2 separate regions of the Homo sapiens genome follow, and region 2 is reported to be linked to region 1. The links are microRNA targets in miRTarBase. Many come from high-throughput screens and were not tested one by one. Region 1 holds a microRNA gene; the other region holds the end of a gene's coding sequence.
Evidence for each region. The annotated mature microRNA hsa-miR-320e reads AAAGCUGGGUUGAGAAGG and lies in region 1 at 2,332-2,349, shown strand. An mRNA with a match to its seed (bases 2 to 7 or 8) in the 3' UTR can be bound and repressed. Matches are read on the target gene's strand: a 7mer-m8 pairs with bases 2 to 8, a 7mer-A1 pairs with bases 2 to 7 and ends in A, and an 8mer does both.

Region 2: miRTarBase lists DAD1 as a target of hsa-miR-320e. The part of its 3' UTR that is shown has no 7-base or 8-base seed match.

Annotation. Positions count from the first base shown.
Region 1 is chr19:46,707,252-46,711,642 of GRCh38, reverse strand. It overlaps MIR320E (microRNA 320e), which reads left to right and starts at 2,289; the gene lies at 2,289-2,361. It overlaps PRKD2 (protein kinase D2), which reads left to right. Exons shown (of 18, transcript NM_016457.5): 3 at 605-736. RefSeq lists an enhancer at 976-1,794.
Region 2 is chr14:22,571,212-22,575,528 of GRCh38, forward strand. DAD1 (defender against cell death 1) reads right to left here. Exons shown (of 3, transcript NM_001344.4): 2 at 3,848-4,022. The coding sequence ends at 3,892. Among named protein-coding and RNA genes, the nearest start is that of DAD1, 16 kb to the right of the region's middle.

The sequences.
Region 1 (4,391 bases):
GGCGGGCAGATCACCTGAGGTCGGGAGTTTGAGACCATCCTGGCCAACATGGTGAAACTCCGTCTCTACTAAAAATACAAAAATTAGTCGGGTGTGGTGGCGCATGCCTGTAATCCCAGCTACTCTGGAGGCTGAGGCAGGAGAACTGCTTGAACCCGGGAGGCGGACTTGTGGTGAGCCGAGATCTCACTACTGTACTCCAGCCTGGGTGACAGAGTGAAACTCTCTAACAAACACAAACAAAAAAGCCCACAACATTTTAAGCACTTTTAAGCGTACAGTTCAGTAATTTAAAGTTCACGCACACTGTTGTGCAGCCGGTCTCCAGAACTGTTGTCATCTTGCGAAACTGAAGCTCCTTGCCCGTTAAACAACTCCCCAATTCCCGCTCTGTCCCTGCCCAGGGCGTAGGGATATATGTGTTTTGTTCAGGGGTGGAGCTGGGATTTGAACCCAGGCAGAATGTAGTATGAGAGCAAATGAAGGAAGGAAGGAAAGATCACACCTTGCGGCTGGGAGCACTGTGAGAAATCAGGGAACGTGGGGTCTGGAAAAGCTTTGGCCTACCCCGCCTCAAGCATCCACCCCTATTTTCCGCCTACAGCCTCGGCCACCTTCGAGGACTTCCAGATCCGCCCGCACGCCCTCACGGTGCACTCCTATCGGGCGCCTGCCTTCTGTGATCACTGCGGGGAGATGCTCTTCGGCCTAGTGCGCCAGGGCCTCAAGTGCGATGGTGAGAGCTAAAGGGTTGGGGGCGGGGCCTGGGGCGGGGCTCTGCACCGGGGGCGGAGCGTAATGGTCCTGGCACGGGGACAGCGTGGGGAGGAGGAGCGGGTCTCAGAGCTGGGGGCGCAGCCTAGGAAGTAATAATGGGAAGAAGGATGGGCCCAGAAGCAGAGCTTGGGGAAGGAGTGGTGGGGCTGGGCCGGGGCTCAGGTCTAGGGGCGGAGCCTAGGAGGTGGAGCTGGGAGGGACAAGTAGGGGCTTAAGAACAGAGCCTAGGGGAGCAGAAGGGTGGCGGGGGAAGAGGGTGGGGCCTCTATCAGTTAGGGATCAAGCAGAGAAACATCCAGGAGGAGATATATATTGAGATATTTATATGCAAGGAATCAGCTTACAGAATTGTGTGGGCTGGCTAGGCAACTCAAATCTGGCTGGGCACAGTGGGGGAGGCCAGTAATCCCAGCACTTTGGGAGGCAAAGGTAGGTGGATCACTTGAGGCCAGGAGTTCAAGACCAGCCTGGGCAACATAGCAAGACTCTGCCTGTACAAAAAATAATTAGCCAAGCATGGTGACAGACACTTGTGGTCCCAGCCACTTGGGAGGCTGAGGCGGGAGGATCACTTGAGCCTGGGAGCTCGACACTGTAGTGAGCCCTGATTGCACCACTGCACACCAGCCTGGGTGACAGAGCGAGACCCTGGCTCAAAAACAGGAAAAAGGCCGGACACGGTGGCTCATGCCTGTAATCCCAGCACTTTGGGAGGCCGAGGCGGGTGGATCACGAGGTCAGGAGATTGAGACCCTCCTGGCTAACATGGTGAAACCCCGTCTCTACTAAAAATACAAAAAATTAGCCGGACGTGGTGGCACACGCCTGTAGTCCCAGCTACTTGGGAGGCTGAGGCAGGAGAATTGCTTGGACCTGAGAGGAGGAGGTTGCAGTGAGCCGAGATTGTGCCACTGCACTCCAGCCTGGTGATAGAGTGAGACTCCTTCTGAAAACAGAAACAAAAACAAAACAATAAAAAGAAAAAGAAAAAAAAATCCATCCTATCAGGAAGGGCAAGTGGGAACTCAGGCACAAGCTGAAGCTGATGTCCACAGGTGGAATTTCTTCATCCGAAAAGTCTCTGATCTGCTTTTTAAAACATTCAGCTGATTGAATGAGACCCACCTAGAACAAGCAGGATCACCTCTCCCACTTACAGTCAGCTGATTATGGATTTTCATCACATCCAGAAAATACCTCCACTGGGCCGGGTGCGGTGGCTCACGCCTGTAATCCCAGCACTCTGGGAGGCCGAGGCAGGTGAATCACCTGAGGTCAGGAGTTCGAGACCAGCCTGTCCAACATGGTGAAACCCCGTCTCTACTAAAAATACAAAAAAGCCGGCGTGTTGGTGGACGCCTGTAATTCCAGCTACTCGGGAGGCTCAGTCAGGAGAATCTCTTGAACCCGGGAGGCAGAGCTTGCAGTGAGCTGAGATTGCACCATTACACTCCAGCCTGGGCAACAAGAGCAAAACTCTGTCTCAAAAAAATGAAAAGAAAAGAAAATACCTCCATGGGGCCTTCTCTTCCCAGTTCTTCCTGGAGTCGGGGAAAAGCTGGGTTGAGAAGGTGAAAAGAAAAAACAAACCTTGACTGGGCACAGTGGTTCACACCTGTAACCCCAGCACTTTGGAGGCTGAGGCAGGCGGATCATGAGGTCAAGAGATTGAGACCACCCTGGCCAACATGGTGAAACCCCATCTCTCCTAAAAATACAAAAATTAGCGGGCGTGGTGGCATGTGCCTATAGTCCCAGCTACTTGGGAGGCTGAGGTAGGAGAATCACTTGAACCCAGGAGACAGAGGTTGCAGTGAGCCGAGATCGTGCCACTGCACTCCAGCCTGGCAACAGAGCGAGACTCCGTCTCAAAAAAAAAAAAAAAAAAAAAAACCACAAACAAACCAACCTTCATGGCAACATCTAGATTAGTGTCTGAATAACTGTGGATCTCGCCTAGCCAAGCTGACACATTAACATGACTATCAGGGTCCATCTCTTGTCAACCTGGCACCTGTCTTAGTTTGTCAGGGCTGCCTTAACAAAATACCACCCTGCGTGGCTTAAATGACAGACATTTACTTCTCAAAATCCCTGGAATTGTGAGAGGCTGGAAAGACAAAGATCCAGATTCTGGCAGGGTTCTGTTTCTGGTGTAGCCTGCTTTCCTGCCTTGCAGAGGGCCATCATTTCACTGTGCGCTCACATGGGACACGGAGAGAGAGATCCCTGGTATCTCTTCCCTTTATAAGGAAGGCCAGGCATGGTGGCTCATGCCTATAATCCCAGCACTTTGGGAGGATGGTGGATCGCTTGAGTCCAGGAGTTCGAGACCAGCATGGGCAACATGGTGAAACCCCGTCTCTAAAAAATACAACAAATTGGCCAGGCATGGTGGTGCATACCTCTAGTCCTAGCTACTCAAGAGGCTGAGGTGGGAGGATCACCTGGGCCTGGGAGGTTGAGGCTGCGGTGAGCCGTGATCATGCCACTGCACTCCAGCCTAGGTGACAGAACACGATTGTCTCAGAAAAAAAAAAAAAAAAAAAAAAAAAAAGGTCACCAGTCCCATTGGATTACAGCCACACTCTTTCGGCCTCAATTAACCTTAATTACCTCCATAAAGGCACCGTCTCCAGATATAGTTGCATTGGAGGTTAGGGTTTCAACATAAGAATTTTGGGGGAGACACAGACATTTAGTCCATAACAGCACCCATACATATCTCCTTAAATCATAGTTTAAAAATATACAGGTTTTCTTTTTTGGAGACAGCGTCTCAGTCTGTCACCCAGGCTGGAGTGCAGTGGCGCGATCTCAGCTCACCACAACCTCCACTTCCCAGGCTCAAGCGATTCTCCTGCCTCAGCCTACCGAGTAGCTGGGATTACAGGCACACACCATTACTGCCCGGCTAATTTTTGTATTTCTAGTAGAGACGGGGTTTCACCACGTTGGCCAGGCTGGTCTTGAACTCCTGACCTCAAATGATCCACCCGCCTTGCCCTCCCACAGTGCTGGGATTACAGGCATGAGCCACCGCGCCTGTCCAAAACATACAGTTCTTTAAGCCAAGATGTCTCAAGGTTCAGCCCAAGTGTCAAGATCTATATAGGTCCTCTGTCCCTGTTATTCATGCTTCTGAGTGAGAATGTTGAAATCGGGGCTCTGCCTACAGATGAAGGCCATGTACCTGCATTGGCTATGAGGACAGATGACAGGTGAGGACCATCCATTCTGTGATGAGACCCTGTGGCTCCATTGTTTTGTGTGTGTGAGACAGAGTCTTGCTCCGTCACCCAGGATGGAGTGCAGTGGCGTGGTCTTGGCTCACTGCAACCTCTACCTCCTGGGTTCAAGCAATTCTCCTGCTTCAGCCTCCCAAATAGCTGGGATTACAGGTGCGCACCACCACTCCTGGCTAATTTTTGTATTTTTAGTAGACGGGGTTTCACCATGTTGGCCAGGCTGGTTTCAAGTAATCCACCCTCCTCAGCCTCCCCAAGTGCTGGGATTACAGACATGAGCCACTGCGCTGGGCCCCATGCGCCTCCATTTTTGTATGGTGTGCCCTGCAATTAGAGCCATATTCTTGGATGTTCCATTGGGTATTA
Region 2 (4,317 bases), not on the chromosome of region 1:
GGCTGCGGCAGGAGAATTGCTTGAACCCGGGAGGCAGGGTTGCAGTGAGCCAAGACTGCACCACTGCACTCTAGCCTGGGCAAGACAGTAAGACTCTGTCTCAAAAAAAAAAAAAAAAGAATTTCACAAAGAAACACAGAAGAACAAACATGGAAAAAACTAAAGTATATACATTTTTAAATACTGAAATCCACTGAGCTTCTTTCTGTCATGGATTCATTCAAAAATATGCCGCCACCTACACAACAAAAACTGATCATTTCAGGTGTGCATGGATTTCTGGGGGTCAGAAGCTCACTGGGAGAATTTTTGCTTTTGTATTTTCATTTGTATAGTCTAAAAAATAAAAAATATTGAGTCTTTCTTGATCACCTGGATAGATACATTAGTTGTAAGATTTCTAGCAAGGGGCTCTTTTTTTTTTTTTTTTTTTTTTTAGAAAACAGAGTCTTACTCTTGCCAGGCTGGAGTGCAATGGTGCAATTCGGGCTCACTGCAACCTCCGCCTCATGGGTTCAAACGATTCTCCTGCCTTAGCCTCCCGAGTAGCTGGGATTACAGGCACCGGCCACCACGCCCAGCTAATTTTTGTCTTTTTAGTAGAGACGAGGTTTCACCATGTTGGCCAGGCTGGTCTCAAACTCCTGACCTCAGGTGATCCACCCACCTCGGCCTCCCAAAATGCTGGGATTACAGGCATCAGCCACCGTGCTCAGCCATCCTAGCCAGGCTCTCTCAACTTCAGTTCCTCATCTGTAAATGAGAACAGCAAGCCTATCCTCGTGAAATTATTCTGAAAATAAAATGATATAGAACAAGAAGTACTTAAAGCATAGCACACACTGAGCACTCATTATCTGTTAACTTCCTTACTTCCCCTTGAATTGTTTATTTTTTTAACCCAATGCCATTTTCTTTTGACCTGCCTCTTTCAGAGTAGGTTAGAGTTTGTCACCCCCAAATTCATGTAAGATCAGCTATATTACAGAATTTTTTTTTTAATATCAAACTCTCAACTTAGTTGGAAAATATAAAGACATTCAATCTGTTTTGTTCTACCTTCTGAGCTGGTATAAATATTGAGAATTTACTTGGAACTATTTTTAAAGTGCTGTGGCACAGTGCACATATAGCTGAGTTAGAAGCACATAAAAGGAGCAAATAAATGTATATTTTTAAAAACTGAGAGCAGGACAGTATAGTATAATTCAAATGAAGGATCTCTATGAAAAACAATCTGGGCAATCCCCCAGAGAGAAAGATTTTTCTATGAACATACTCTCCATAGAAAGATTTAACACTGCAATCTGGGATTGAGGATTTTGCTATGCTTTGGGCCCATAATTCCCAGCTGAGCAGGTGGTCCTAGGTTGTTAATATGGTCTGCAGTACACAGTTTCTGCTGAGACTGCTTTTTTGTCTTTGCTTTTGTCATAATTTTGAAATACTAAGCTCTCTGCAGTAGAGTCTTCCTCCAATCATGACAGCCCTAAGAAATAATTTTCCATGATTTGGTATCTCCCTGAGCCTAGAAAACATCCTTGAAATGTTTGCTGTGTCCCCTTCCTAAGTACACACCATGACTCATCTAGAAAAAAAGAACTTCAGAAATCTAGAGTAAGCAATCAGAAGACATGACCTTTCCAGAAGGCTCTATCAGGAAGCCCAAGGGTTACTCATATTTGCAAGCGTGAGAAGGTCAATGTTGGTGGGTCAGTTTTCTACCTGCATTCAAGGTTATCCACTGGTAACAGTTCATTTTAACTAGCAATAGCTGTTATCCATTGCTCAGATAACTCATCTGCTGTCCCTGCTCCCAGATGGTACAGCTGCTCTCTTCTCTGGATTTTTGCAGCACTTTGTTCAAACCTATAGCGAGGCCCTAAATGGGCTGTATTTTAACTGTTATGTTTACGTATTCTCCCCTACTAGACTGTACATGTCTTGAAGGCAGAAGCCACACTTTTGGGTTTTTTTTTTTAATTGAGATAGGGTCTTGCTATGTTGCCCATGCTGGTCTCAAATTCTTGAGCTCAAGCAATCGCCCACCTCGCCTTCCGAAAGTGCTGGGATTATAGGCATGAACCACCACGCCCAGCCAACAATATTGTTTATATTCCCAACAACAAGACATTGGCTGGCACATAGAAGGGGAGGGAGGAAGGGAGGAAGAGGATAACTCAAGTCTTAATCAGGTGTCTAATGAGTTAAATTGTATTAAAATAACAGAACAAAGTGGTTCTTAAAAGTTTTTCACTGTTGGGAGGCCAAGGCGGGCGGATCACCAGGTCAGGAGATCGAGATCATCCTAACACGGTGAAACTCCGTCTCTACTAAAAATACAAAAAATTAGCCGGGCGTGGTGGCGGGCGCCTGTAGTCCCAGCTACTCGGGAGGCTGAGGCAGGAGAATGGCATGAACTCGGGAGGCGGAGTCTGCAGTGAGCCGAGATCGCACCACTGCACTCCAGCCTGGGTAACAGAGCGAGACTCCATCTCAAAAAAAAAAAAAAAAAAACAGAAAAGAAAAAAAAAAAGTTTTTCACTGAAATAAACCTCACTGTCAACTTACCACTACCAAAATGATACCTTACCTGAACTAACAGAACTGTTTTTGAGGCAGTATCAAAGGAAAGGATTTAGGTAACATATTATAAGTAAATGACTAATTCATGTCAGAAAAGGAAGTATAGTCACTTCCACATTATTGCATCCACTTTGCACATAGATGCTCTAACTCTTATACTAGATTTCTGCTGGTTAGTATAAAAATGACAGCTTTCCAAGTGGTGACAGGAAGAGGTTGGTCCTAGGATATCCTTCCCCCAAATAGGATGAGATCTCCTAAGGTTCTCTTTTCTCTACCACCCAGAACATTACATTTTGCAATGCAAAGGCAAAGATTGCATGCATTCATCAGTAAGCTACATGGGATACCGGAAGGAGTACGGGGCCAAGAACACCGCTAGACTAGGGCACTTCACTGCAAACACTTAACTATGTGGCCAGGGAAGGCCAATGGATTGTTCTAGGCCTCTGTTGTCTCATATATAAAGTAACAGTGTTGACATACGGTATGGAAAACAGCCATATATTTATTAAAGCTTTAGAACTCTGCTTGGGAGGGAGCGATTTAGGGGAGGGCGTACCATATGTGATGAAGGCCAAGCAGAGAGGGCTTTTCAATTTCTGTCCATCAAAAAAAACTCCAATTCTACTTCTGCTTTATATACCAAGATTCTTTTTGTAAGAGTTTGTTTGGGAGAAGGGAGAAAGAACTCTACTGCTAAAAAAGTGAAAATGGCAAATGAACCAAGCAGCATCCCATCTTATATTTTAAAGTCTTCTCCCAAGTTAACCCAATTTCCCCATTTATTTCTACTTTAAGGCACATATTAGCAAATGCCCACAGTCATTCATCCAACATACACTGGATGCTATCAAATTTAAGTGCTATGAAAACAATGGTCCAGCATTAAAAGTCATCTGAGATCAAAATCAGAAAAAAATTAACTAACAAATCTAAAGGCAAAACCTACCATTTATGTCTCTTCCAAAATCTCCGAGTTATTTTCGTGGAGTTATTGGTACAGAAATTATTGTACTAGCTACAAACATTAATTTTCTATTACCTTAATGATTTGAAGAACAGAAAGACAAGGCAATGACCAAGAGCAGTAGCACTGATGAATTATGATGATATTAATGCATACTTTGCAGACCAATGGAAAATTCTGCAAATGTCAATAGCAGTATGGGAGCCTGGCCAACCATGATCAAAACCAGTCCCATCCAATTTCTCTTCCTAAAATCAACATTATAGGACAAGGACTATGATCATCACTTACATTCTTTTAGTCTCCTACTCCTCAATTAAGTAAATGAGAATGATTCAGCCAACAAAGTTCATGACAACAAGGTGCAGGATGGTGCTGGCAAAGAGAAAATCAGCAAAGGCTCGCTCTGGGGAGATGCCTTGGAAATCCGCTTTGTTCTGTGGGTTGATCTGTATTCTCAGGCAAACTGCACAAGAAGCAAAACACAAAAAAATGATTATATAGAAGTATAAAATAAATATGCTAATGAACACAGACATACCCGAGGACCCAACAATTCTACTCTAACAGAAATGAATGCATATATACATCAAAGGGCATACACAGAAATGATACCCAGATAGCCCCAAACTGGAAACAATCTAATGTCTATCAACAGTAAAATGGATAAATTATAGCATATACAAACAATAGAATATTATACTGCAATGAAAAAGAACTTCTGCTATACACAAAAATGGATGAATTGCACAAGTAAGTTG